Linked DNA regions of Homo sapiens. The main gene of each other region encodes a partner of the protein of the gene in region 2 in a complex. Each region holds a gene or a part of one and is shown on either strand. Other genes may lie near its edges.

Region 1 (6,979 bases), on a different chromosome or scaffold from region 2:
CATGGGCGACAGAGCAAGACTCTTTCTCCAAAATTTAAAAAAAAAAAAAAAAAAAAAATATATATATATATATACAAAAATTAGCCAGGTGTGGTGACGCACACTTGTAGTCCCAGCTACTTGGGAGGCTGAGGTACAAGAATCACTTGAACCCAGGAGGCAGAGGTTGCCGTGAGCCGAGATCATGCCACTGCACTCCTGGGCAACAGAGCAAGACTCTGTCTCAAAAAAAAAAAAAAAAAAAAAAAAACCCAGCAAACTCTTATTCTGAAATCCTGGATTTAAACCAGCTGAATGAGTGGTTTTCCACCCACTGATTCAGGAACAACCTTGGCTTTCACGGCAACAGATTTTAACTGTGTTAAATTTAAAGTCAGATTACATTAATTCAGGTTTTCTCATGGATGTTTTCAGTTACCTAACCAGCTGGAAAAACTAAAAGTGTTTTTTGTTTTTGTTTTTCACATTTTGATGGTTTAGGCTACATTTTGTTGCTGTTTTAGAAATGTTTTCACATCAGCTAAATAACTTTATTGTCTTAACTAAGGACCGAAGCAGGTCAAAAGTTCTTGTAAAGAGAAGGGAAGCTTTACCTTTGCTTGCCAGAAGTTCATCTCAAAAGATCACAGGCTTCTGACCTAAAGAACCAATCTTGTTGAAACACATGGGTGACTGTCCATGTGTTTTCAGTTGGCTATTCTCTTTCGACACAAAATTGACCTAGAATACACTGTTGAGCCCTACCTGGATCAGCTCTTCAGATGGAGCCTGAGATCACCGAGGCGCTTGGTTCTCAACATAATGGGCAGAGTGTTACGTGTCTGCTGTGGAGTATTAGTAAGCTTGGGTCACTTTTCATTTTGGTTGGTTCCCTGCCTGCTAGTGAGATCATGTAATGACAAGACCCAAATCCCCTCAAGTCTTAGGAATGCCTTGTCTTAAATCCTGATTCACAGAAAGGCACATACCTCTTAACAGGCAGTCACACTTCAGCCAGTTTGATAAATGTAATTTTTTTTTTTTTAAAGAAAACACAGAACAAGTCCTAAATCAGACAAATTGCACAAAAGAGAGAGAAGAAAATTGTAAGCTTCCTGGGAGAGGAAGAGATGTCCATGAGAAAACCAACTGGGATGAGCCTACAAAAGCATGTCCCTCTCTCTCCTAATTTACTTAGTCTCAACTGAGCCCAACAGGAGCTGGCCTCTGTCCCAGCTGCAGGATGCTCCCAAGGCAGTGTCCAAGAGCCTGGAAGGCAGCTTTTATCAGCAGGTTCAGTACAGCAGGAAAAGCCATCCTGGCAAAGAGTCCAGTGGTCCTATTAGCGTAGGCTGCTGCTGCTGCTGGCCTGGGAGCTGCCCATACCTGGGTGGTCTGGACTATGTCGATTCTGGGGGAGAAAGAAGCAGGGTAAGAACAACTAGGAACTAGCCTTGGCTTTGATCAGGCTGTACAGGAGAAACCTGCAACCTGCCTTGGGTTTTCAATCTTGGGTCCAACTTGAGGCAAAGAACTCTAGGGTATTTAGGACAGGGGTGAGATCTGGGGAAACTCACTGGGTTGTGGCAATAGGCCTCTACTCTACCTTCTTTTTCTTCTTCTCTTTCTTCTTCCTTTTCCGTTCAGGATCCTCTTCTTTTTTCTTTTTCTTCTTCTTGTGATCTGAATCAGATGGTGTTTCTGTAGGAGACATTAGGTACCTATCACCTGTAAAGCTCAAAATCCTCTACTGTTATGAACCACTGAAGACTACAGGAAAATCCCAAGTCGGGGCAACTGCTTTTGTCCAAATGGCCAGAAAGGATACAGAGGTGCTGCTAGAGTCCCTGTCCCAAGTCCCAAGAGACCACAGTACATTGGTTTCTTCTTCAGGGGAATTTAGGAGTCCAGAGCTCCATACGGAACTTAACTGGGTTTACCTATGGAAGTTCAAACCAGATTCAGAAGGTCAGGTTTTTTTTTTTTTTTTTTTTTTTTTGCTTTGAATAGAACTGCTTCTTACCTGGGGGGACAGGATCCTGGGTACGGCTCTGTTTGTGCTTGTGCTTATTCTTCTTCTTGGGAGGCTGAATATGCATCAGACGACACTGCTCCGGCAACTGAAGGAACCAAAGGAAGGTCCAGGTGAGTAGAGGGAGGAAATCTCTCCTGCTCTTATCATCCATTCTGCTCCATTATGAAGGAACAGACTTGGAGAGAAAAACCATCTCCATGTTTAGGCCTCCCCATTTGCCTTCTTCCTCCAACAGGACTCACCGGGCCAGTGTGGAGGCGGAAGCCGGCCAGCATGGTCCCTGTGATAGGATTGAAAGAGCTACTGAGAATAGGGGGCTTCTCAATGAGAGAGCGGAGGCTGCTGTTATCATGGGAACCAGGCAGATCAATCATCCCTGGCAGGTCAGGCAGGAAGTTACTTAGCTTCTCCTTCACCTTCTTCCCACAGAATTTATTATAGGCTTGTTCCAAGTTGTAGTGTGTGATCAGATTCGTGCTGCCTGTCAGCTCTGTGCTACCTAGACAACGCAGAATAAAAATAAAAAAGATCAGTCTTCAAAGTAGACCCAGGGAGTGAAGGACTATATATTAACCTAAATAAGACATTTTTTAAGTGCAGATTTTAAAATTTAAAATTTATTTTTAAAGAAACAGAGCAGGCCGGATGCAGTGGCTCATGCCTGTAATCCCAGAACTTTGGGAGGCTGAGGCGGGTGGATCACCAGGTCAGGAGATCGAGACCATCCTGGCTAACAACACGGTGAAACTCCGTCTCTAGTAAAAATACAAAAAATTAGCCAGGCGTGGTAGCACGTGCCTGTAGTCCCAACTACTCAGGAGGCTGGGGCAGGACAATCACTTGAACCCGGGAGGTGGAGGTTGCAGTGAGCTGAGATTGCGCCACTGCACTCCAGCCTGGACAACAGCGAGACTCTGTCTCAAAAAAAAAAAAAAAAACAGCAAAAGTAAATAACATGAAAAGTATAATACAACACAATGGTAGGTTCCAATGGGAAGGGGAAAAACAGGCAAAAATCCAATAGGGCAGAGACAGGAACTGCTCTAGCCCAATGAAGGAGACACTCCACTCTCTTAAGATTAACTGGAGTTGATTTATATGATGCTTGCTTCGTGGTAAATGCTGTTCTGAGTGTTTCTCATAAAATGTATTAGTGAAAAATTATATTCTCTGACACAGCTAGGAAAATACGACCTTGCAGCTCAGCTACAACCATGCTCAGGGGGCCAAATATGACCCAGTGACTTAAGGGTCTTGTCAAGGACTTTTTTTTTTTTTTACTAGCAAGAAACACTAATCACCTTTACATAAGAAAAGAACTGGGAGATTTTTTTCTAGCTACCACTGCCTAACTTGTTACCAACATCTTTATTCTTCCTCGTGATACTGAGTATGATGCCTTGCCTAAAAGGAATAAATGTTTTTTGTTTTTGAGACGGGAGTTTTGCTCTGTCGCCTAGGCTGGAGTGCAGTGGGGTACGATCTTGGCTCACTGCAACCTCCGCCTCCTAGGTTCAAGTGATTCTCCCACCTCAGCCTCCCAAGTAGCTGGGATCACAGGCACACACCACCATGCCTGGCTAATTTTTTTCTAGTAGAGAAGGGGGTTCACCATGTTGAGTAGGCTGGTCTTGAACTTCTGACCTCAAGTGATCCGCCACCCCCCGCCGCCTCGGTTTTCCAAAGTGCCGGGATTACAGGTGTGAGCCACAGCACGCATCCAGGAAGAAATGTTTGATTAGAAGTCAGTCAACTAATGGCCAGGCGCGGTGGCTCACGCCTGTAATCCCAGCACTTCAGGAGGCCAAGGCGGGCAGCTCATTTGAGGTCAGGAGTTCAAGACCAGCCTGGCCAACATGGTGAAACCCTGTCTCTACTAAAAATACAAAAATTAGCTGGACAGTAGTGGCACACACCTGTAATCCCTGCGAGGCGGAGGTTGCAGTGAGCTGAGATCAGGCCACTGCACTCCAGTTTGGGTGAGAGAGTGAGACCCTGTCTCAAAAAAAACAAAACAAAACAAAACAACAAAAACAAAAAAACAAGTCAGGCAACTAGAATTATTCTGGCTGTCTTCCATGCCTCAGTTTCCTCTTATCTGTGGAATGGAATAATAGCTATCTTACATACACATAATTTTCTCCCAAGGTTCAAATGAAAATATGCTGAAAAGCATAAAGTATCAGGCTTGGCACAGTGGTTCATGCCTGTAATCCCAGCACTTTGGGAGGCCAAGGCAGGCAGATCACCTGAGGTCAGGAGTTTGAGACCAGCCTGGCCAATATGGTGAAACCCCATCTCTACTAAAAATACAAAAATTAGCTGGGTGTGGTGGCATGCGCCTGTAGTCACAGCTACTTGGGAGGCTGAGGCAGAAGAACTGCTTGAACCCGGGAGGTGGAAGTTGCAGTGAGCTGAGTTTGCACCACTGCACTCCAGCCTGGGTGGGAGAGTCAGATTCCATCTCAAAAAAAAAAAAAAAAAAGTATTATATGTATGCAAGGCACTATCCATATAAATATTGCATGGCTGATTCTTTTTTAAAAAATATACATTTATTAGTAACTTAATAAGGACCTACTAGCAAGGGTAGAAATAGCTAACTACAACTTCATTTGTAATTATGATAGACACAGAGGGTACAAATGACAAAAATGGCTTGTTTATAATCATTCACTTGGGAAAACTGAGGTACTGAACTGTAAGCTCCTTGGAGGCACAGACAATGTCTTGTTCATTCATGTATCGCTAGTGCCCAGCACAGTACACACATTAGGTGCTTAATAAATATTTATTAAATAAACAAGGCACTTTCCCTCTATACCTCTAGGCCTTATTCATCCTTTTCCTTCCCTTTACTACCAAACAACTCAGAAGACTGAGCGAGGGTAATGGCAGGAGACCCAATGTCACAGTATCTCTCCTCATAACTCTGGGCACTGCCTCTTGCCATTACAATCTTCTGAATTTCCCCTGCTCTGCCAACTCTCCTCTGTCCAGATGGTTATCCTTAAGGCTCAGGTGAGAAGGCAGTCTGTGCTTTTTCTAAACTGTAACTTGAGAGTTCAAATTCCAGTTTTGACTATTCTACAAAGATTACTTTTTATATTTATTTATTTTTTGAGACAGTCTCGCTCTGTCACCCAGGCTGGAGTGTAATGGCACAATCTTAGCTCACTGCAATCTCTGCATCCTGGGCTCAAACTACTTTCCTGCCTCAGCCTCCCAGGTAGCTGGGACTACATGCATACACTGCCATGCTAGGCTAATTTTTGTATTTTTTGTAGAGACAGGGGTCTCCCTATGTTGCCCAGGCTGGTCTTGAACTCCTGGACTCAAGCTATCTGCCTGCCTCAGCCTCCCAAAGTGCTAGGATTACAGGCGTGAACCACCCTGCCCAACAAGATAAAAAAAAAAAAAATTGTTTTGAAATTCCAAATCTTGCCAACATCACTCAGGGCTTCTCTATTTCAATCCATGGCACCCACATGTTCCAGATATTTTTGGAAATCAGTACTCCTCAGTTCACAAATCTTAATGGTTTCTTTTTGCCCTCAGGAGAAAGCTCAAATTCCTTTGACTGGCACTCAAGGCTAATTACATCTTACTCCAACTTAGCTTTGGGGCCTCATCAACCACTACTCTCCTATGCAAAATTTCTGATCCATCCAAATGGATCTCCTTATCGCCTCAAAAAAACACCCCTCACATTATTTCATCTTAGGAAAATTCTTCCTAATTTTTCTTCACCAATATGGATTATTCAAGGTCTAGCTCAAGTGACATCTTATTCTCACTGTCATTCTGGATAGCAACACACTTTGAAAACCATTAGGTAGTTCTTAATATTGATGGCTAAGATATTGTTAATTGCTGTTGTGAGGCATGAGCACAAAATGAGATGGAGGTGACAGGAAATATAGTCACTATCCTTAAACCACAAATTTTACATTCCTAACTAAACTCCTTGAAAAGCAATGACCAGCATTACTAATCTCTCTCTCCATCTCACCCGCCTCATACACCCAGCATTTGCCCAGAACATATATTCAATATCTGTCAACTGACTGATACAAATAGCTACAATCAGAATAGGGAAGGCAAAAGAAAGATTAAAAGAAACCGCTGGTGGACATCAACCACTAACTAATCAAAGGGATGTCAACTTCTCCATGTTTCAGTTTTTTCAATTATAAAATGTAGACAGTAATGCTACCTCAAAGGGCTATTCTAAGTATTAAATACTACTTATATTAAATACTGCATGTAAGTGTGTTGTGAACTTCAAAGTACTATACCAATATTTGTTGCTATTTCCCTCAAGTCATGATGTGGAAATAAGACTTGAGACAATGAAAGGCATCTGGGAGGCTGGGCGCAGTGGCTCACGCCTGTAATCCTGGCACTCTGGGAGGCCAAGGTGGGCGGATCACCTGAGGTTGGGAGTTTGAGATCTGCCTGACCAACAGGGAGAAACCCTGTCTCCACTAAAAATAAAAAATTAGCTGGGTGTGGTGGCACATGCCTGTAATCCGAACTACTCGGGAGGCTGAGGCAGGAGAATCGCTTGAACCTGGGAGGCGGAGGTTGTGGTGAGCTGAGATTGTGCCATTGCACTCCAGCCTGGGCAACAAGAGCAAAACTCTGTTTAAAAAAAAAAAAAAAAGAGGCATCTTGGAGACCAAACATGTCCAAAATAACTCTTGATTTCCACCTCTTCAAACTTGTTCCTTCCTCATCTTCCAAGTCTCCGTACCCATACACCCAATTATTCAAGCCGAAAACTTAAAAAGGCATCAATTCCTCTATTTCCTTCACTTCTATATACAATATATATTTTTAATTGAGACAGGGTCTTCCTCTATCATCCAAGCTGGAGTGCAGTGGCACAATCATGGCTCACTGCAGCCTCAACTTCCTGGGCTCAAGTGATTTCTACCACCTCATCTTCCTAGGTAGCTGAGA
Region 2 (7,973 bases):
TAGGAGTTTTTGTCTAGTTTGTTCATTGCTGTCTTTTTAGCATTTTCATTTATTTATTTATTTATTTGAGACAGAGTTTTGCTCTTGTTGCCCAGGTTGGAGTGCAGTGGCGCAATCTGGGCTCACTGCAACCTCCGCCTCCTGGGTTCAAGTGATTCTCCTGCCTCAGCCTTCCGAGTAGCTGGGATTACAGGCATGTACCACCAAGCCCGGCTAATTTTGTATTTTTAGTAGAGATGGGGTTTCTCCGTGTTGGTCAGGCTGGTCTCGAATTCCCAACCTCAGGTGATCCACCCGCCTTGGCCTCCCAAAGTGCTGGGATTACAGGCGTGAGCCACTCCGCCCAGCCAGCATTTTCATTTATTTTTTTTCTTTTTTTTAAATTTTCCTCTCTAGCCCAGTTCAATAACTTTTTTTTTTTTTTTTTTGACACAATGTCTCCCTCTGTTGCCTAGGATGGAGTAAGTGGTGTGATCAAGGCTCATCACTGAAGCTTCGACCTCCCAGGCTGAGGTGATCCTTCTGCCTCAGCCTCCAGAGTAGCTGGGGACTGACTACAGGCACATGCCAGGAGGCTTGGCTAATTTTTTTCTTTCTTTTTTTTTTTGAGACAGTGTTTCGCTCTGTTGCCCATGCTGGAGTGCAATAGTGTGATCTCGGCTCACTGCAACCTCTGCCTCCTGGATTCAAGCAATTCTCCTCCCTTAGCCTCCCAAGTAGCTGGGATTACAGGCATGCACCACCACATCTGGCTAATTTTGTATTTTCGGTAGAGACAGGGTTTGACACTCCAGCCTGGTCATCAAGAGTGAAACTTAGTCTTTAAAAAAAAAAAAAAAAAGGTGGATAGATAACAGTCCAGTGGTATGGTATTCCTTACATCAGACCCATAACTTGTGTGTCATCTTGCCATTAAAAATGTCTTCTTTGGATGTTTTGAAGTAAAATGATTTTGGAAAATATTTTAACTGAATTCTTACTGTGATGAAGTGTGGGAATTTATTTTGCAAGGAAAACTGTGGATGGTCTTGATAGAACAGTTACTGATAACGTTTTCTGATTTAAATCATAGAGTCAGAAAAGCTGAGTAAGATGAGTTCTCTCCTGGAACGGCTCCATGCAAAATTTAACCAAAATAGACCCTGGAGTGAAACCATTAAGCTTGTGCGTCAAGTCATGGTAAGGATTGTGGTGAAGTGGGTAAAGTGTTTTGCTTAGATAATTATTCTTAATACGCTAAGCTCCCCATGTAGATGTGTTCATACTATCTTCATAAAACATCTGAATACATGGTGGTTTCAACTTTAGGAGTCTATTGTATCTATACTACAGGTTGAATATCCCTTATATGAAATGCTTGGGACCGGAAGTGTTTTAGATTTTGGATTGTTTTGGATTTTGGAATATTTGCAAATATATAATGAGATATCTTGGGGATGGGACCCAAGTCTAAACACATAATTTATTTATGTTTCATAAACACCTTATAGATATAGCCTGAAGGTAATTTTATACAACATATTTAATAATATATTTAATACTTTTGTGTGTGAAACTAAGTTTTTTTTTGTTTTTTTTTTTTATTGAGACGGAGTTTCACTCTTGTTGCCCAGGCTGGGTTGTAATAGCCCGATCTCGGCTCACTGCAACCTCTGCCTCCCAGGTTCAAGTGATTCTTCTGCCTCAGCCTCCCGAATAGCTGGGATTACAGGCATGCGCCACCACGCCCAGCTAATTTTTATATTATTTGTAGAGACGGGGTTTCTCCATGTTGGTCAGGCTGGTCTTGACCTCCAGACCTCAGGTGATCCACCTGCCTTCGCCTCCCAAAGTGCTGGGATTACAGGCGTGAGCCACCGCGTCCAGCCGTTTTGACTGCATTTTGACTATGACCCTGTTATGTGAGGTCAGGTGTGAAATCCTTGGTGGCATCATTGGGAATGCTAAAAAGGTTTTGGATTTGGGAGCATTTCAGATTTTTGATTTTCAGATTAGGTATGCCCAGCCTGTACTAGTAGAATTTTTGATTCATTCTTTTTTTTGAGACCAGGTCTTATCATCCAGGCTCAAGTGCAGTGGCGCGATCATGGCTCACTGCAGCTTCAACTTCCCAGGCTCAGGTGGTTCTCCCACCTCAGCCTCCTAGTATCTGGAACAACAGGTGCATGTAACCATGTCCAGCTAGTTTTTTTTTTTTTTTCTTTGAGATGGAGTCTTGCTCTGTGGCCAGGCTGGAGTGCAATGGTGCGATCTCGGCTCACTGCAACCTCTGCCTCTTAGGTTCAAGAGATTCCCCTGCGTCAGCCTCCCGAGTAGCCGGGACTACAGGCACACGCCACCACGCCTGGCTAATTTTTTGTATTTTAGTAGAGATGGGGTTTCACCATGTTGGTCAGGATGGTCTCCATCTCCTGACCTCGTGATCTGCCTCCCAAAGTGCTGGGATTACAGGCGTGAGCCACTGTGCCCGGCTGCCCAGCTAGTTTTTTATATTTTTTGTAGAAATCGTTTTTTTTTTTTTTTTTTTGAGATGGAGTGTCGCTTTGTCACCCAGGCTGGAGTGCAGTGGTGCGATCTCGGCTCACTGCAAGCTTTGCCTCCCGGGTTCATGCCGTTCTCCTGCCTCAGCCTCCCGAGTAGCTGGGACTACAGGCCCCTGCCACTATTCCCGGCTAACTTTTTGTATTTTTAGTAGAGACGGGGTTTCACCGTGTTAGCCAGGATGGTCTCGATCTCCTGACCTCGTGATCCACCCGTCTCGGCCTCTCAAAGTGCTGGGATTACAGGCGTAGCCACTGCGCTTAGCCAGAAATAGGTTTTTACTCTGTGGCTCAGGCTGGTCTCAAACTTGTGGGCTCAAGTGATCCACCCACTTTGGCCTCCCAAAGTGTTAGGATTACAGTGTGAGCCACCGTGCCTGGCGGATTCATTTTTTTTTTTTTTTTTTAAAGATGGAATCTCTGTCTGTCACCTAGGCTGGAGTGCAGTGGTGGGATCTTGGCTCACTGCATCCTCCGCCTCCTGGGTTCAAGCGATTCTCCTGCCCCAGCCTCCTGAGTAGCTGGTATTACAGGCATCCGCCACCATGCCCAGTTAATTTTTGTATTTTTAGTAGAGATGGGGTTTCACCATGTTAGCCAGGCTGGTCTTGAACTCCTGACCTTGTGATCCACCTGCCTCAGCCTCCCAAAGTGCTGTGATTACGGGTGTGAGCCCCTGTGCCTGGCCCAGGTTGTCATTTTTATTCCTTAAGGCAACCAAATTCTAGCTTGAAATATGTTCTGTAAATGATACTGTCATTAGAGAGACATTGTGAGATAGAAGGATTCCAGGTGGCTAATAAGGCCCTCTCTTTGGGTACCACTCTCTTGGTTTGGTCACCATGACTTTGCTTGTCTACTTTTCAGTTTTGCAGATTCAGAAACCTAATTTTATTGGTACATCAAGATTTTATAGAGTTTTCATGGCTGGGCGTGGTGGTTCACATCTGTAATCCCAGCACTTTGGGAGGCTGAGGCGGGTCGATCACCTGAGGTCAGGAGTTCGAGACCAGGCTGACCAACAAGGTAAAACCCTGTCTCTACTAAAAAGACAAAATTAGCTGGGCATAGTGGCAGGCGCCTGTAGTCCCAGCTACTCGGGAGGCTGAGACAGCAGAACCGCTTGAACCCGGGAGGTGGAGGTTGCAGTGAGCCAAGATCATGCTACTGCACTCCAGTCTGGGCATCGGAGCGAGACTCCATCTCAAAAAAAAAAAAAGAGTTTTCAACAACTGACATACTGTATGCTTATTTATTAATTTATGACAAAACATTTAGTTTTCCAGTTTTCATAATACTGGTATTCATTGACCAGAGCACCTCTTCTCCTGTCAAGAATCAAGAGATTTCAGATTATTAATAAATTACTTTGTTTTGTAAGGGAGAATTAGAGCAGTGAGATAGATTTATTTGCAACATGGAAAAGCCTGGAAAACTATCCTTATACCAGAAAACTGTTCACGTTTTTAGGGACTGGAATGTTTTTCAGAGAGAAACTTCTTCACTGGATAGGGTTAGGAAAACTAGGCTAAGTTTTTTTTTGTTTGTTTGTTTGTTTTGTTTTGTTTGAGATGGAGTCTCACTCTGTCACCAAGGTTGGAGTGCAATGGTGTGGTCTTGGCTCACTGCAACCTCTGCATCCCCGGGTCAAGCGATTCTCCTGCCTCAGCCTCCTGAGTAGCTGGGACTACAGGCGCGTACCACCACACCTGGCTAATTTTTGTATTTTTAGTAGAGATGGGGTTTCACTATGTTGGCCAGGCTGGTCTCGAACTCCTGACCTCATGATCTGCTCGCCTTGGCCTCCCAAAGTGCTGGGATTACAGGCGTGAGCCACTGCAACCGGCCTCAAACTAGGCTAAGTTTTTGTTCTTTGGAAGTCCCTTTTCTGGACTACATGTTCTGTTTCTTTTCTTTTTCTTTTTTTTTTTGAGACAGAGTCTCTCTCTGTCGCCAGGCTGGAGTGCAGTGGTGTGATCTCGGCTCACTGCAACCTCCGCCTCCTGGGTTCAAGTGATTCTCCTGCCTCAGCCTGCTGAGTAGCTGGGACTATAGGCGTGCACCACCACGCCCAGATAATTTTTGTATTTTTAGTAGAGACGGGGTTTCACCATTTTGGCCAGGATGGTCTCAGTCTCTTGACCTCGTGATCCACCCGCCTTGACCTCCCAAAGTGCTGGGATTACAGGTGTGAGCCACCGCACCCAGCCTATATGTTCTGTTTTTTAGAGTCAATCTCATTTTCTTAAAATTTGGTTGTGTTTCTCAGATTACATGCAAATCACCTTGTTAAATTTGTACACTACCAAATCTCCTGAGCCATCTTATTTAACTGTTTATATCTTAGCATGTGGTCACTTCCACAGGCGGCAGATCTCATGTATTACATTTTGATTCTTCCTAATATTTCTCTAAAGGTTTTTTTGTTTTAGATGTGGAAATACAACGTTTTCTTTTTTGTTTTTGACTAAATAGAAACAGGATCTCTCTATCTTGCCTTGGCTGGTCTCGAACTCCTGGACTCAAGTGATTATTCAGCTTTGGCCTCTCAGTGTGCTAGAATTACAGGCATGAGCCACGTGCCTGGCTGAGGAATACCTTTTTCTACACTCATATATATGGATTTTGCATGGATGGACAGAGTAACACTTGTAGACCAGTGTTACTCTATATAGTCTACAAAATCTATAGACTATATTGAGTCTATAGACTGTCCTGCAATATTACTACTAGGATAATGTGTATGTTTACCTAAAACACTGTTGGCCTGGTTAATTTTCACCTCAAATGTTTTCCCACTTGACACAGGAGAAGAGGGTTGTGATGAGTTCTGGAGGGCATCAACATTTGGTCAGCTGTTTGGAGACATTGCAGAAGGCTCTCAAAGGTTTGTGAACACTTTTGAAATATGCTGATTTCACAAAACCCCCAGTTCAAGAAGGACCATTTTATACTTAAACTAGAAGTAAAAAATTGAGGTAGGTCAACTTTATGTATTAGATATTGCTCTTGCATTCATTTATGGAGTTGGAATGATCTTTTTGCTAAAGTTTGAAACATTTATTTTTGATCCTGTTTTGGAGGCTGATAGAGATTTAAAAGATAAATGATGAAGGGTAATATAAGATACCTGGGGAGGCTGGGTGCGGTGGCTCGCTCCTGTAATCCCAGCACTTTGGGAGGCTGAGGTGGGCGGATCACAAGGTCAGGAGTTTGAGACCAGCCTGGCCAACATGGTGAAACCCTGTCTCTACTAAAAATACAAAAATTAGCTGGACGTGGTGGCGGGCACCTATAATCCCAGCTTCTCGGGAGGCTGAGGCAGGAGAACAGTGTGACCTGGGGAGGCGGAGGTTGCAGTGAGCCAAAATCACGCCATTACACTCCAGCCTGGGCAACAGGGCAAGACTTGTCTCAAAAAAAAAAAAAAAAAAAAAAAAGATACCTGGGAAAAGTTTTTTTTCCCTTCACATTTATTTCTGATTAATCTCGATAAGAAGATGGACTTTTTTTTTTTTTTTTTTTTTTTTTGAGATGGAGTTTCACTCTTGTTGCTCTGGCTGGAGTGCAGTGGTGGAATCTCGGCTCACCACAACCTCTGCCTCCTGGGTTCAAGCGATTCTCCTGCCTCAGCCTCCCAAGTAGCTGGGATTACAGGCATGTGCCACCATGCCCGGGTAATTTTATATTTTTAGTAGAGACAGGGTTTTCCATGTTGGTCAGGCTGGTCTCGATCTCTTGACCTCAGGTGATCTGCCCACCTTGGCCTCCCAAAGTTCTGGGATCACAGGCGCGAGCCACAGCAACTCGCGAAGTTTTTTTTTTTTTTTTTTTTTTTCCGAGACGGTGTCTCACTCTGTCACCCAGGCTGGAGTGCAGTGGCACAATCTTGGCTCACTGCAACCTCCACCTCCTGGGTTCAAGCGATTCTCCTGGCTCAGCCTCCCAAGCAGCTGGGACTACAGGCGCGTCCCACCACGCCTGGCTAATGTTTTGTATTTTTAGTAGAGATGGGGTTTCACCGTGTTAGCCAGGATAGTATAGATCTCCTGACCTCGTGATCCACCCGCCTCGGCCTCCCAAATTGCTGGGATTACAGGCGTGAGCTACCATGCCTGTCCAGAAGATGGACATTTTAACTCTAAAAAGATTTTTACGGTGTTTATGGAGCAAATTTCCAGGAAAGCAAATGTAAAATATAAGTCATGAGCTTGATTATTCATGCTTATAATGACTAATTCTATTTTTGGGGAATAATGAAAGTAAAAACAGATTTTACTGTGATCCACCAGAAATGAACCTAATTCAGCTGAGGGTTTTTTTTTTTTTTTCTGGAGACAGTGTCTCACTCTGTCGTCCAGGCTGGAGTGCAGTGGCACGATCTCTGCTCACTGCAACCTCCGTTTCCCGGATTCAAGTGATTGTTCTGCCTCAGCCTCCTGAGTAACTGGGATTACAGGCGCCCATTACCATGCTCAGCTAATTTTTGGATTTTTAGTAGAGATGGGGTTTCACCATGTTGGCCAGGGTGGTCTTGGACTCCTGACCTCAGGTGATCTGCCTGCCTTGGCCTCCCAAAGTGTTGGGATTACAGGCGTGAGCCACTTTGCCCAGTCTCAGCTGAGTATTATCTTCTTTACCTTTTTTTGTTTTCTTTTTCTTTGAGACAGAGTGTCGCTGTGTCACCCAGGCTGGAGTGCAGTGGCACGATCTCTGCTCACTGCAACCACTGCGCCCCCACCGGGTTCAAGAGATTCTCTTGCCTCAGCCTCCCGAGAGGGTGGGATTATAGGCGCGCACCACCACACCTGGCTAATTTTTGTATTTTTATTAGAGACAGGGTTTCACCACGTTGGTCAGGCTGGTCTTGAACCCCTGACCTTGTGATCCGCATGCCTCGGTCTCCGAAAGTGTTAGGATTACAGGCGTCAGCCACCGCACGAGGCCTTTTTTTCTGTTTTAATTGTGGTAAAATATAGGTAACAAAATTTACCATTTTCTTTGTTTCTAAGTGTATAGTTCAGTAGCGTTAAGTACATTCATATTATTGTATAATCATCACCACTGTCCATCTGTAAAACTTCACTCATCTTCCCAAGCTTACATTCTGTAATGTCCCATTCCCGCCTTCCCCCAGTCCCTGGCAGCCACCATTCTGCTTCCTGTCTTTATGAATTTGACTACTCTGTATACCTGATATAAGTGGAATCATATATTTGTCCTTTTGTGACTGGCTTATTTCACTAAACGTAATGTCTTCAAGGTTCATCTATTTTGAAGCATTTATTAGAATTTCTTTCTTTTTTAAGGTTGAAAAATACTCCTCTTTATGTATATACATTTCATTTATCCATTCATCTGCTAGTGGACACTTGGATTGTTTTAACCTTTTGACTGTTGTGATTAATGGTGTTGTTAATGTTGAGTTTTTTT
Region 3 (7,973 bases), on a different chromosome or scaffold from region 2:
TCCATTTTAACATTAAAAGTAATATCTTTATATCTTTTTAAAAAAAAACCTTTTAGCTTGATTTTTTTGCCAGATACACTAGATATAAAGTTATCCTCAGGAAATTTAATAAAGCCAACCAATCTCATATGTCTCATAAACTAAAAAAAAAAAAATCTATGTACTCTGGAGCTTTCTTTAGAATTACATCCTTAAAGCAGATATACTTTTTGCACTTACATACAGAAGTAGCAGCAGCAATCAATCTTGTATTTGAAACTACTCCAAATTCCTAAAGAAAGAAAAGCAGGTACATGTTAACCCAATGAATCTAAGGGTATCTGAACTCTATTCAAAACAGGATTTCCTTGCTCCTGTTTACAATCTGTTCACCTTCTAACTACTTGAGGTGTGAAGTACTTACACTCCTAAATGTACAGGCTGATTACCCCTTATCTGACATGCTTAGGATCAGAGATTTTTCTGATTTAGGAATATTTTGCATTACACTGGTTGAGCATCCCTAATCTAAAAATCTGAAATGCAAAATGTTCCAATGAGCATTCCTTTGAATGTCATGTTGGCCCTCAAAACGTTTCAAATTTTGGAGCATTTAGGATTTTCAGATTACGGATATTCTGCCTGTATTACCTCTCCCCCAAATTGCTACAACTTAAGACATATTTTAAAATAATTTTATAATTTAATAACAATAAAAGGTACCAAATTAGAAACCAAGCCTTAAGGTTACAGTGTCAGTTTTTCCATTTAAATTAGTTTCCAAGAAGATTGTTTACATTCTATACTTAATTGCAAGAATATTAAGTATGTTTCCTATTCAATTCAACCTGTATTAACAGATACTTCATGCCATTCTATGGTAAAACAGTTGAATTTGTGAATAAGATAAACCTTAATTAATCACCAAAAGAACTAAAAAAAAAAAAAAACCATATAAATAGTTACTATCCTTTTTAGAACAGGGAGACAGGAATTACGTAAGACTTCCAAAGTCAGTTCCCATTTCCTCTTTCAACTGAACAACCACCATTGTGAAAATACTAAAATTTATTATGATCCACCTTATATATACTGTTTCATTTATTGCCTCGTAAGATTTCTAAAGCCTTCACTTCATTTTAAAATAAAAAAATCAAGAGTTGGTTTCTTATCCAACAAAAGGAGCTAAACTAAAAATCTATTTAAATACCTTCAGCCTACATCCTTATCCTGTGTAGGGGAAATGTATGTGTACTAATATATTTGTTTTACATTTAAACCTCCAACTATAATAACTGAAAAGAAAAAGTAAAAGCCTGAGACATGTTCTTAAATGAGCTTTCCATACAATTTCCATAAAACTAGAGAAAATACAGAAAGATTTGGTCACAGAGATAAAAAAAAAATAATAATAATGCTACGACCAAATCTGAAAGACTACATTCTCTTTCTCAGGAATAATTCTTTTTTTTTTTTTTTTTGAGATGCAATCTTGCTCTGTCACCCAGGCTGGAGTACAGTGGCATAGTCTTGGCTCACTGCAACCTCCACCTCATGGGTTCAAGCAATTCTCATGCTTCGGCCTCCCTAGTAGCTGGGATTACAGGCATCTGCCACCACATCCGGCTAATTTTTGTATTTTTAGTAGAGACGGGGTTTTGCCATGTTGGTTAGGCTGGTCTCAAACTCCTGACCTCAGGTGATCCACCCGCCTGAGCCTCCCAAAGTGCTGGGATTACAGGTGTGAGCCACTACACCCGGCCTAGGAATAATTCTTTATCCAAAACTCAAAGGGAAAACTTTCATTCAGTAAATCACATCACAGAGTTCTACTCAGTAAATCACATAACAATATTTAACAAGTAAGATAGATTAAAATCCTCAAATTAATCTACAAGATTAAATGTTTATAAAGATTTTTTGTCTTGGTCCTCCATACTGCCTGTGCTTAAGAGACTTTAAATTATTACATGGTAATATTTAAATAAAATCAAATATTACATAGAATTATTAGAATTAGAAAACTCAATCCATAATAAGGACCTTAACTGATTCTGCCTTCTTAAACTACCACTCACAATTAGAAAACATAAACTTCTAGAAAGCTTGTCTTAATATTATTTCTAACAGAGTCAATTGTCATTATTTAGGTAACAGTTGGGAAAGATGTCATGGATAACCTTAAATCATGGCTAAAACAAAACTAAATCAAAGTGGGTGCCAAAAGGAATGTAAACTTACTAGGTAAAAATCACATTCAATATTCAAGAATACAACTCTAAGAATAGAACTCTAAGACATTATCCAAAAATAGAAACATAATGCAAAGATTTCACACCACCAAAGACTACATTATTTATGAAAAACAGCCAATATCTGCTATTATTTTCTGGACTTTAGCTGAGCTCTTTCAAAAATACTACAAAGGTAAAACAGTTGAACAGAAATTCAGTCTCTGCCGCAAGTTCCTATCTATCTTCTCTCCCTTACCTAATTTCTCTACGCTCACAACCTCAACTTTTACTTGTTAGACTCTATATAGCTATAGCTTCCCCTAATCCTTGCCTTCCTTCTGGCTTGGTAGGCAGCCAATCATCAGGATGATGGGAGGGAAGACAGGAGAAGATAAGCATATGGGTGAGAAGCATAAGGGACATTCTCAGGTTATGGTAGGCAAGCTGTGGTACTTACTGAATACTACTCAGTGCCAAACAATAGATGTCTCAAAGGCAGCAGAGGAAAGTAGTTAAGAACACAGGATTGGTAACGAGACTCCCATGGTTCAAACACGGGCTCTCACACTTACTAGCTATATCATCTTAAGCAAGTTCTTCATCTCTGTCTCAGTTTCCTCATTTATAAAATGGGAATACTACTACTATGTATTCCAGTTTGTTACAAAGATTAAGTCAGTTGGTACACAGTAAGTGCTGTATGTGTCTGTTAAGTGAATATATAAGGATATGTATATATTTCTTTGATTTTGTACAATTTTAGTATTTTGCATAAATTACCATTTATTAATTTTACATAGGCCATGTGAAAACTGGGGCAGATTAACCAACATACATTGACTACACTTTGATGAAGAACAGAAAATTGTTTTATACCTCTACTTTGGATGCCAAAAACACACATGTAGGAGCCATTAATACAGGATCTATACTTTTCAGAGAATACCTAAAATATGATAAAACAAAGTTAAATATCATTCATACAGAAAACACACTGGGAAAAAAATCAAGATAACTCTATGGTAGACACATGATTCATTTACACTGTGCTAAGGTTCATCAACATTAGATAAGAGTTCAAATAAATAAAATAAAAACAATCCTACCTGGCATAGAATCTCTTGAAATATACCGTAGCAGTGGCAATAACTTGTTGTCTTAATTTAAGATGTTCACCTAATGCTTGGATAACTAAAAGGCAAATAATGAAATTTTAAATGTATCTTCTGGTATCATTATAATATTAACATTGAACAGTAACTTCCATGTGGTTAAATCATAATTATGTTCATTTTTAACAAAGGAAAAAACCTACACATGCTCTATGTGAGTCACAGTGGTCTAATTCTAGGATTTGCAAATGTGTTAAGAAATATATAGGTATGCATAAACAACAACAAAACAACAACAAAACAGAAATTGCCCCACAGGAAAAAATTATTCATCCATTAAGGAAGTTGAATAAATATTTCCCCTCTATCTTCTAAATATTTTTAATGCTTTTCATAGTATCTTTATAATAAATATAAAAAGAAAATATTAGACACCTATGAAACTTGTTAATACTACCACTTTTTTTGTTGTTTTGAGACAGAGTCTCGTTCTGTCGCCCAGGCTGGAATGCAGTAGCACGATCTTGGCTCACTGTAATCTCCACCTCCCAGGTTCAAGTGATTCTTGTGCCTCACCACGCCCAGCTAATTTTTGTATTTTTAGTAGAGAGGGAATTTCACCATGTTGGCCAGGCTCATCTCAAATTCCTGGCCTCAAGTGATCTGCCCACCTCTGCCTCCCAAAGTGCTAAGATTACAGGTGTGAGCCACCACACTTAGCTTTATACAGCTCACCAAAATAAATAAATAATACATAAAAATCCATAACGAATCCTCAAAAAAAAGATAAGTTTACAAAATAGTGAACCGAAAGTTAAAAAAATTATGTGACAAACCTACTACATGTCAGAGTAAAGATCTATCCCTACATCTTCTTCCCTTCAAAGCAAAGTTCTAAGAGAAACGACCACTATAGGATGTCAATCCAAAGAATCATTTATCCTCAAAGTACTTTGCTTTAGCCAACCTTGAACTGGGTCTAATAATTATTATAAAGTCTTAGGGAGATTAGGTAACACTTTCAAATTGTCTTGAGTGCCTGTGATATGTAAAATTCACACAAAAAAACTTTATTTGGATCACTAAAAAGAAAGATAAATGAATATGTTGTAAAAAGAATACCTGTATAAGCAAAAATGTTAGGTATGCACTAAAACAGTTCACAAATTACCACACAAAAACATTTTTATTCAGAGGTAACCAACTATACAATTTGAACCAATTTTTAAAAAAGTTTACCATTTGTAAAAAATATTTGTAACTTCCAATATTCTTCCTCTGAGAGAAACTTTAAATCCTTTTGGCGCTCCTTCAACAGATCTTGTTTATCCAAAATCCATTGCAAACTAGAAAAGACATGTTACAGAAAATCAACAAGCAAGGTCAGAGGAAACACTCTAAGATTGAACACATTGTTCATATTCTGAGAAGTACAAAGTGCAAAAAGTAACCTTAAAGACAATTATTTCTCACATTTCTTGAAACGTGACTAATAAGAATTATCTCACTAATAAATGTAAATACGTCCTGAAAAAATTCTGCTCTAATCTTTTCCTTCTTCCTCCTTAGTCTGTTACTAGCTTGTATTTCATTGATTCTGGCTCTGATATCAAGATATGTCTTACAATCTGTGATGCCTTCGTGTTTTAATTGGCAGCATGTTTATTCTTTCTTAGTGATATAAGATAATGGTGGAATTATTTGGCACCAATTGATGGTGGCTTAGATTTGAGGAAGTATATAGTTTTCCAGCTGTTCATGGGTAACTATGGCATTTAATTTCCTTACTTCACAAATCTAATTATATTAAAAACTGCCTCAGAATGTGTTACACTGATAGCCTCCTCCTCTTGCCTAGTCAAGTGTGCTATTTTTAACCAGATATGAAATTGACATGACTCAAAGAAAAAACTATCTTGAACCTGTGTTTGTCATTCAATATGTATTTGAAGTCTTATGTCAATGAACTTGTTATTCAGCATTCTTTTATACAGCTTTATGGATGGATCATTATTTAGCCAATCTCTACTGATGGAAATACAGGTCGTCATTTTTCACCCATATTTTCTGATACCCTTAAGGGCTTTTTTCCTTCAATTTATGATCCATCTGGAATTTATTTTGGTACAAAGTAGGGATCCAGCTAAAATTTTGTCAAATGCTTATCCAAATGCATGGAGGTATTTCCTAATTTATAATTCTATCATTATACTTGGATCTTCTTTATAATTTCCTATTTTTTTCTTGTTCACATGCTGTGCTATTTTAGACACAGAAAATTAAGTAATTAATAGCTGGTATAAAAAAAAACTCTCTTCCTACTATTTTCCTGAATGATATTCTTCTTAATGAATATCTTTGTAATTCTCCTTGCATATTTGATTAATAATATATTTGAAATAACTTCCCAGAAGTAGGATTAATGGGTTAGTGTTGCTGGTAACTTATTGATACACATTGTCAGTTTACCCTCCAAAAACATTATACCAATTTCCATTTGTATTAACAGTTCATGAGTGAATCTTATAATATTTAATCCTGGCCGGGCGCGGTGGCTCATGCCTGTAATTTTAGCACTCTGGGAGGCCGAGGTGGGTGGATCACCTGAGGTCAGGAGTTTGAGACCAGCCTGACCAATATGGTGAAACTCCATCTCTACTAAAATTACAAAAATTAGCTGGACGTGGTGGCGTGCGCCTGTAGTCCCAGCTACCTGGGAGGCGGAGACAGGAGAACTGCTTGAACCCGGGAGGTGGAAGTTGCACTGAGTTGAGATCATACCACTGCACTCCAGCCTGGGGTACAGAGTGAGACTCTGTCAAAAAAAAAAAAAAAAAAAAAATTCCTATGGGTTACTGCCACTTTTAAATACTTTGTAACTTAAAGGCAAAGTAGTATGTCACTGTTTCTTTTCCCTGTAGTTTACTTTTGAGGTTAAACATCTTTCCATGTCTTTATTGGTCAAATACAGTTCTTCTTTTGTACAATGTTAATTCTAATATGACCATTTTTCTAATGGGATTACCGATTTTTTTAATGATTAAGAGATTCTTCTGATCTAAAATTTGTATAGTATAAATAATAAATCATTTGTTTGTCAAATAAGTGCAAAATTTCTCCCAAGTTTAAATATCTCTCAGTATTTATTTGTAATACAGAAATCTGAATCACTTACTTAAATCTACCTTTTACTTTCATGTTTGTCAGGCATAGCAAGGCCTTTCCTGATTCAAAACGATAAAAAACAATTCACCCATATTTTCTAATACCCTTAAGAGCTTTTTTCCTTCAATTTATGATCCATCTGGAATTTATTTTGGTACAGAGTATAAAGCAGGGATCCAGCTAAATATGTTGTCAAATGCTTATCCAAATGTGCTAAGGTATTTCCTGATTTATAATTCTATCATTATACTTGGATCTTCTTTATAATTTCCTATTTTTTTCTTCTTCATATGCTGTGCTACTTTAAAACATAGAAAATTAAGTAATTAATAGGTGATATGAAAAATACTCCCTTCTATTCTTCTGAAAATTTCTGACTATTCTATCACAATTATTCTAAGACCTAAACTTTAGAAGCATTATGTCGAGTCCTAAAAAAGAATATCCATTCAAATTTTGTGATTACATTACATTTAAAGATCAATATGGGGAGAAATGACATCTTACCAAGAATTCAAACTCTATTAAAATCTGTATGTGCCACTATGGACTTTTAAAGTTTTCTTCCTACAGGTTCTGTATATTTCTTTATATTTTTCCCTCTGTATATTTTCTGTTGCTAATGTAAATTATACTTCTCTATCCATTTTTAAAAAGCTTTTATTTTTGCATTTTATAACTGGTCACCTTCCTAAACCTTTATTATTTCTAATAACTTCTCAATTAACTGAGTTTTCTCATTAATTTTATTTCCACGTATTGATAATTTTGTCCCTGTTTTGTCATTCTTTCTATATCTCCTTTGTATCAACTGTATTGACTAGCATATTGGTAAAATCTTAAATAGGCACCCTAATTATCTCAATGTTTCACCACTGCTGATGCTTTATGTTTTTCATGTTAAGGAAGCATCCTATTTCTGTTTTAGTAAGAGCTTTAGTCAAGGATAAATGTTGAATTGTATTAGTTTTTTAATACCTTTACTGCTTGATTTCTTAATATTGACTATATTTCTATAATAAAATCCAATGTCATGTTTTATACTTTCAATGTAATGTTAGACTGCATTTGGTAATAATTCATTTACAATGTTTGCATTAATATTCAAAAGTGAGACTGTTTTTAGTGTTCCCTTTGCTAGATTTTTCTGTGTTATCATGGCTTCATAAAGAGAATTAGAAAGCTTTTCTTCTTTCTGTATGAAATGGAACAATTTCAAAAGGAGATTCTCTTGAAAGATGGAAAGTATTTACCCATGAAATAACACATAGCTCTTGGGTAATACTCTTAACTTGCTTTGGCTTTCAAATTTAAAACCCTGGAGATAACCCAAAAGTACCCCTGGGTTTACTTTTCTCATTCCTAATTTTGTATTTTTGTATCATTCCTTTTTCCCCTGATTTAACTAGCAGTAGTTTGGTCTACTGTTTTTATTTACTCTAAGAATTAGCTTTTATAATTTTTTTCCTTTTAATATATTAGC
Region 4 (7,259 bases), on a different chromosome or scaffold from region 2:
GGCCTGGAGGATCTGTGCAGAGCCTGCTGTGTTCACGCACAGCAGCCTGTATAGGGAAGCCATATGACCTCTGCTCTCGCCGCCCTCGCACCCTTTTCAGTTGCACACTCTTACCCCCGTCTAGAATGTCTTCTTTCCTTTGTGTGGCTGGATCCTACCTTCTCTTCATATTGCAGTTCAAATCCTACTTTTTTTTCCTGCTGACTTGTTCATTTTAATCTTTTCCTATCCTGAAGTCTTTCCTTTTTCCGAAAGACTTGTGGTCTTTCCTCGGTAATAACTTGTTTTATTTTGTGGTCTTTCAAAAAGTTTTTAGCCTATCTCAGCTGGGCGTGGCGGCTCATGCCTGGAATCCCAGCCCTTTCGGAGGCTGAGGCGGGCAGATCACCTGAGGTCAGGAGTTCAAGACCAGCCTGGCCAACATGGTGAAACCCCGTCTCTACTAAAAATACAAAAATTAGCCAGGTGTGGTGGCTCACACCTATAATCCCAGCTACTCAGGAGGCTGAGGCAAGAGAATCACTTGAACCTAAGAGGTGGAGGTTGCAGTGAGCCAAGATTGCACCATTGCACTACAGCCTGGGCGACAGAGTGAGACTCTGTCTCAAAAAAAAAAAAAAGTTTTTAGCCTATCTCTCTCATGAGATTGTCAGCTTTTTTTTTTTTTTGAGATGGAGTCTCGCTGTCACCCAGGCTGGAGTGCAGTGGCACGATCTCGGCTCACTGCAACCTCTGCCTCTTGGGTTCAAGCGCTTCTCCTGCCTCAGCCTCCCGAGTAGCTGGGATTACAGGCGCATGCCACCATGCCTGGCTAATTTCTGTGTTTTTAGTAGACACGAGGTTTTACCATGTTGGCCAGGCTGGTCTCGAACTCCTGACCTCAAGTGATCCACCCACCTTGGCCTCCCAAAGTGCTGGGATTACAGGTGTGAGCCACTGTGCCCAGCCTGATTGTCAGCTTCTTGAAGTCAGGGGCTAAGTCCTCTGCTTGTACATCTCTGAAGCCCTAAGAAAAGTGTTGGGAATGGCTTATATATGTAATAAGCATGTGGGATTGTGGCAGTCTATCCATTAATTCTTGTAGCGTATGAAAGAGGAATCTTGCTTTCCAGTTTTTACCTTTTTTTTTCTTTTTTTTTTTTGGAGATAGAGTATTGCTCTGTTGCCCAGACTGGAGTGCAGTGACACGCTCTCAACTCACTGCAACCTCTGCCTCCTGGGTTCAGGTGATTCTCGTGCCTCAGCCTCCCCAGTAGCTGGGATTACAGGCGTGCACCGCCACACCCAGATAATTTTTGTATTTTTAGTAGAGACATGTTTTCACCATGTTGATCAGGCCGGTCTGGAACTCCTGACCTCAAGTGATCCACCCGCCTCAGCCTCCCAAAGTGTTGGGATTACGGGTGGGAGCCACTGTGCCCAGCCCTGCCTTCTTTTGTTTTCTACTTAACTAAATGTGTATAGCTTTCCATTTTTATTGCAAATAGCCTATGGAAATAAATGAGAAAACTCATATTTTAGAGACTGGAAGGGGTGAGCTGGGGCTTGAAAGTTGATCTTCTGATCCAGATCCTGAGGTCTCTCTGCTGTAGTGTGCTGCTTGCTTCCCAAGTTGGCTAGACTTCTAAAAATTCTCCAACGGTTTGCCATTGGTTTCAGGATACAGTCTAAACTTCTTGAGGCATGGTAGATAAGACCTATCACAGCTTGGATCCCATCTACCTTTCCCTGCTTATGCTCAGACACTCCCCTTTGCTGCTTCCATAGGACCATTTACTAGATCTCAAAGAGGGAGGAGGCTAAGCTGAGGAAGAGTGTGCAGAAGAAGGGAGCAGCTACTTCCTTTGGCATGCCCAAATGCTGTTACTTTCATTTTACTTATGTAATATATGATAATATACAAAAGATTATACGTAAAGTCTGTGGGAGTTAGACTTTACATGTAGACCATCTGTGAGCCCACCACTCAACTTAAGAATTAAAACATGATCAACACTATTAAAGTTCCCTGTGTGCCCCTCACTGTTTTCTGTAGAGCAGGGTGGGTTTTACCACATGCTGCCTCTCCTGCTATTTCCCCCTACCTTTCTAGAAAAGGCTGTCAGTGAGAGGATTCCCCTCACCCCCAACCAAGAACTGCTGAGGTAGTGCCAGATTGCTGTCTGGCCTCATTCCGGGGGGAGTCATTTGACTCTACTCTGGGGTTTGCCAGTGAAAGTCTTGATGATGAATAGGATCTCTGTCCCTTGCAGGTCAGACCGGGAAGCTGATGTATGTGATGCACAACTCAGAGTACCCATTGAGCTGTTTCGCCCTCTTTGAGAATGGCCCTTGCCTTATTGCTGACACCAACTTTGATGTGCTTATGGTGAAGCTCAAGGGCTTTTTCCAGAGTGCTAAGGCCAGCAAGATTGAGACCCGGGGCACCAGGTACCAGTACTGTGACTTCCTGGTGAAGGTGGGCACGGTCACAATGGGGCCCAGTGCCCGGGGCATCTCTGTGGAGGTAAGACCTTGGTGAAAATAGGAGCAGGATGTTCTGAGGGGGCTGCTTAGCAAAGGGCTCTGAAGATTTTCCAGTTCTTCTCTTTTTTTTTTTTTGAGACAGAGTCTTGTTCTGTCACCCAGGCTGGAATGCAATGGCACAATCTTGGCACACTGTAGCCTCGACCTCCAGGGCTCAAGTGATCCTTCCGCCTCAGTCTCCCAAGTACCTGGGACTACACCCACCGAATTAAATTTTTTTTTTTTTTTAGTAGAAATGAGGTCTTACTATGTTGCCCAGGCTGATCTCAGACTCCTGGGCTCAATTGATCCTCCCATCTCAGCCCCCCAAAGTGCTGGGGTTACAGGTATGAGCCAACACACCTGGCCTCCAGTCCTCAATTTAAACAGATATTTATGCCTACCTGATCCCTGACTCCAAGGCATCTATGCTTCCTCTTCGTGAATCTTTTATCCTTTCTTTAATTATTCAGAGACTCTCTAACACAGCTGGCAAGTAGGAAGCGGGAAGCTGGGTTCAAAGCAAGCAGAAAGCTTCATTAGGAAGGGTGGCTTGCTGGAGAAGGGAAAAGATAGTCAAGGAAGGCAGGTGAGTTATGATATGGAGGGACAGTCACCCATGACAAGAAGTTCTGGAGCAGACCAGGACAACTCTTAGAACAATTTTCTGGCGGTGGGCCCTAAATCACATATGCCCATATACCTTTCCTTAGTATGCTTTAAGATAGGTTGGGAAGCAAAAATGTGCTTTTCCTTTTGACATGCTGTCTGCTTTCTTTCATGGTAGAAAGAGTGTTTGTGTGTGAGATCACTTCATCTGTGACACAGAGAGTGTGTGTGTGTCTGTGTATACATACACATATATAGTGACAAGGAGTGAGAGTGGCAGTGTAGCAGTGGCTGGCTTCTTTGGGACCAGGGAAAGTTCACAACCTATAATGTGCCCAGCACTGAGATAAGAAAACAAGTAAGCTTGCAGGTCTACCCTTTGAAAATTTGTGATTTATTTATTAAGAGTGAGGCTGAAACACACAAACTCTTTTTGAAGTTAGTCTGAAAATGCTATAAAAGAGGCAGTTGGCTCTGGGAATTCAGGCCAGTGTGAACACTGCTGACTTTGGTTGTGATGCTTCCTGAGGATCAACATTTATGTAGGGATTTAAAATGTAGAGACATGGGGATAGATAAGTCTAGGAAGAATCCCAGTTGGAGAAAAGGGCATTAGTGGTAGTTTCTGCTCAGCAACCTCTAGGACCAAGACTTCTAACCCTTTCGGCTTGTGATAGACCTTGGATTTGCTGAGACCCACTGAGGACCCGCTGTTTATCCTCCACATTTCTAATCTTGTAGTAGAAACACACTCCACCTGTTTCTTTACTTATTTCTCCTTAGGGTTGCCAGTAATTTTGCCCTGCCATCTCTCCAGTAAAAAATTAAGAGAGCAGAAGGAGAAAACCTAAGATGTATATTTTTTGGCCCATGACACACTATTTGGGAAATTCTTTCTTAGGGTCAGAACCCAGGTTGGTTCTACTTAGGGAGTAAAATTTGGTCTTGAAAAAAACTCATGAGCATATGTGTCCACTCTACTCTCTACTTACCACCCCCACACACATTTTCCTTCTCTTTCTCTTTGTTGTGTCTCTTAGAATTTTCTTGAGCTCTCCTTGAATCTTTACCCAGCATAGCAGGGACAACACAGTCCTGAGATCATCAAAAGGGGCCCAGATCTGCTTCTGGGTCCTCTGGGAGGGCTGCGGGTTGGCACAGCTCCAGGATGAGAAGGTCAAAGATGCCTAAAGATGCTGGGTATTGAGCCCAGTGTTTAGGTTGAATGTTTCCTGTGGACCAATACTGTGCTAGGAGGTGTGTGTCTTTAGCTCGGGGTTGGGGAAGATGGGAGCAGGAGGCAGGAGGTACAAGAGAAGCAGACCTTGTCTTAGCCTTCATTCACCCTCATTCTCTGTGCTTTTGGTTCCCAGGTGGAGTATGGCCCCTGTGTGGTAGCTAGTGACTGCTGGAGTCTGCTGCTCGAGTTCCTACAGAGTTTTCTAGGCAGCCACACACCAGGGGCTCCCGCAGTGTTTGGGAACAGACATGATGCGGTCTACGGCCCAGCAGATACCATGGTCCAGTACATGGAACTCTTCAACAAGATCCGCAAGCAGCAGCAGGTGCCGGTGGCTGGGATTCGTTAGTGATGAGCAGCTGCCAGCTGAGCTCTGTCACCAGGGGTACTCCACAGGAGGAGCAGGTGCTGACTTTCAGGTCCCTGGACCCCAGAAACCCAGGGTAGACATGGACTCTACTCTCCTTCTCTGGTTCTCAGCTGTGGCTTTTGTTCTGGGGCTGAGTCCCCTCCCCAACCCCCTGACTCTCACACATAGCCCCCCATCAGCTGTTTTACTCCGTGCCTTACTGGATTTGGCCTGTCCTCAAGAATGGTAATTATGAAGAGTGGAGAAGTTTGGACCTTGCCTCCTTTAGGGGAAAGGTAGGACAGGAATGTCCCTGCCTGGTACTGGTGGGGGAAATAGTCCGTATCCCCAACTATTAAGGATTTGTCCCAGGCCAATGGTGAACATGCTGCATTTTATGTTTGGATTGTGCTGTAATAAGAGCCTCTTCCTTCCCTCAGAGGATGTGGCTGGGCTTCTATCCTAGAGATGGAGTAGAAGGCACAACTGGTTTGATAGTTACTATTTTCTGACCTGTTTGCTGAAGTGATTTGCGAATTGACTTTCCTAGGGTGTTGCCTGAGTCCTTTGAAATCTCCTTCTGACATCTTTCCCTTCTGTTGTGAAATATGTTAAGCCACAGGCCAAACTGCTATAAGATCGAAGTTTGTTTTTTTCTCACCTAATAATAGAGAGGTAATCAGATGGTCTAGGGCAGATTTAACTCTACAAGGTTATCAGGAACTTTGTTTCCTTCTGTCTTATTCAGCCATTCCCAGTATGTTTTCTTACCCATAAGATCAAAGCAGACTCATCAGCTCCATATCTGCATTCCACTGGGGAAAGAGAGAGAGAAAAGAGCAGATTTTAAAAAAAAGATATGACTGAGCATTGCTCAGATCACTGTGGCCACACTTTGCTGAAAGAGATGCTGGGACATAGAACCTCTTATCTGGGCAGTCATGTGCTGAGTTAAAACTCAGGGATTCTGTGACTACAAGATGAAAGACAATTTGGTTGCTGAGATGCAGTTAATGGCTTCTGTTACATGGAGCTCAATGGACGTGCCCAGGAATGCTTTTGGCTGTTATTTTGCAGTTAATACCTCCTGTAACTAAAGCATTTGTTTATGAGTTGACTTGAGAGAAGGGCTGATCTCAGAGCCGCTTTGAGCTAAGTTGGATTAGTCACACTAGGAAGTTAATTCCACACCTTTCGTCTAAGTCTCAGTATTGAGGCCTCTCCAGTTCTCATGCACCCTGATCTTAGGGTTAGAATACTTGACCCTGATACCTGCACCATGCTTCATGGTTCCTGAGCTCTTTCTCCTGTTTCATTTGAGCCTCCAAACTACATATTTGGTCATATTGCCTGCCTACCCCATGCCTGCTGCAGAAATATTCATCCAGGTTAACCTTGATATACACAGAGATGGTCTTGGAGAATTGTGAATGTATGTACTGTATTGTCATCAAGGATACTGTCCCTTATTTGAAGGCATCTAAAGAGAAACTGTTTTCAGATCCAAGTGCTCAGATCTAAAGCCTCTGCAACAAGTCAGGTGGTGGTCATGTTTCCCTTCTAGTTTTGGCTGACAGGAAGCTCAGTTCAGTACCATAACTACAGAACCTGTCATCTGTATTTTTTGTTCTCACCCCGTTTTTGTTATTTTGTTTCTGGTTTTTTATATTGAGGTATGTTTTAGATATAGTTTACAAAAATAAAACGCACAGATCTTACCTTTTTGGCCTCCTGATTTACATTTGCTCTCGTCCAGGTTTATTTATTTGTATTTTTCTGTAGGCTGCAGCTTTTATGGAATGAAACAATGCATAGGCAGCATTTTGAACACAATGCATTTCCTGAAAATCTCCAGAAGTTGATCGTGGTAAATATAGACTCTCTAGACTTATGCATCATAAGGAGGGACTCTGTTCCCTAAAAGCTAAAAAGCAGTATAAAATCCCTAACTACACTTGGCTTTTATTTTGTTTTTTTATTATTATTATTACTTTTGAGATGGAGTTTTGCTCTTGTTGCCCAGGCTAGAGTGCAATGGTACAATCTTGGCTCACCACAACCTCCGCTTCCTGGGTTCAAGCGATTCTCCTGCCTCAGCCTCCCGAGTAGCTGGGATTACAGGCATGTGCAGTTAATTTTGTACTTTTAGTAGAGATGGGCTTTCTCCATGTTGGTCAGGCTGGTCTCGAACTCCTGACCTCAGGTGATCCACCTGCTTCAGCCTCCCAAAGTGCTGGGATTACAGGCGTGAGCCACCATGCCTGACCCTTATTTTATTTTATTTTTTTGCAATGGAGTTTCATTCTTGTTACCTAGGCTGGAGCGCAGCGGCGCAATCTCGGCTCACTGCGAACTCCGCTTCCCGGATTCAAGCAATTCTCATGCCTCAGCCTCCCGAATAGCTGGGATTAGAGGCGCCCACCACCACACCCGGCTAATTTTTTGTATTTTTAGTAGAGATGGGGTTTCGTCATGTTGGCCAGGCTGGTCTCAAACTCCTGACCTCACGTGATCCACCTGCCTCAGTCTCCCAAAGTACTGGGATTACAAGCGTGA

Evidence for each region.
Region 1: MED1 (region 2) and MED19 share a complex: the UniProt entries of both Homo sapiens proteins name them as parts of the mediator complex.
Region 3: MED1 (region 2) and CCNC share a complex: the UniProt entries of both Homo sapiens proteins name them as parts of the mediator complex.
Region 4: MED1 (region 2) and MED20 share a complex: the UniProt entries of both Homo sapiens proteins name them as parts of the mediator complex.

What each region holds. Positions count from the first base shown.
Region 1 is NC_000011.10:57,702,717-57,709,695, forward strand, and holds the end of MED19 (mediator of RNA polymerase II transcription subunit 19), read right to left. Parts: intron 2,514-6,979; coding exon 2,257-2,513; intron 2,100-2,256; coding exon 2,003-2,099; intron 1,920-2,002; coding exon of another isoform or gene 1,906-1,919; exon of another isoform or gene 1,681-1,905; coding exon 1,586-1,680; exon of another isoform or gene 1,391-1,585; coding exon 1,322-1,390; 3' UTR 994-1,321; downstream 1-993. UniProt on the Homo sapiens protein: Component of the Mediator complex, a coactivator involved in the regulated transcription of nearly all RNA polymerase II-dependent genes.
Region 2 is NC_000017.11:39,441,004-39,448,976, reverse strand, and holds part of MED1 (mediator of RNA polymerase II transcription subunit 1), read left to right. Parts: intron 1-1,072; coding exon 1,073-1,179; intron 1,180-5,348; coding exon 5,349-5,427; intron 5,428-7,973. UniProt on the Homo sapiens protein: Component of the Mediator complex, a coactivator involved in the regulated transcription of nearly all RNA polymerase II-dependent genes.
Region 3 is NC_000006.12:99,558,278-99,566,250, forward strand, and holds part of CCNC (cyclin-C), read right to left. Parts: intron 4,672-7,973; coding exon 4,565-4,671; intron 3,405-4,564; coding exon 3,320-3,404; intron 3,160-3,319; coding exon 3,090-3,159; intron 272-3,089; coding exon 220-271; intron 1-219. UniProt on the Homo sapiens protein: Component of the Mediator complex, a coactivator involved in regulated gene transcription of nearly all RNA polymerase II-dependent genes.
Region 4 is NC_000006.12:41,904,516-41,911,774, reverse strand, and holds the end of MED20 (mediator of RNA polymerase II transcription subunit 20), read left to right. Parts: intron 1-2,252; coding exon 2,253-2,506; intron 2,507-2,909; coding exon of another isoform or gene 2,910-2,931; exon of another isoform or gene 2,932-3,016; intron 3,017-4,487; coding exon 4,488-4,703; 3' UTR 4,704-6,421; downstream 6,422-7,259. UniProt on the Homo sapiens protein: Component of the Mediator complex, a coactivator involved in the regulated transcription of nearly all RNA polymerase II-dependent genes.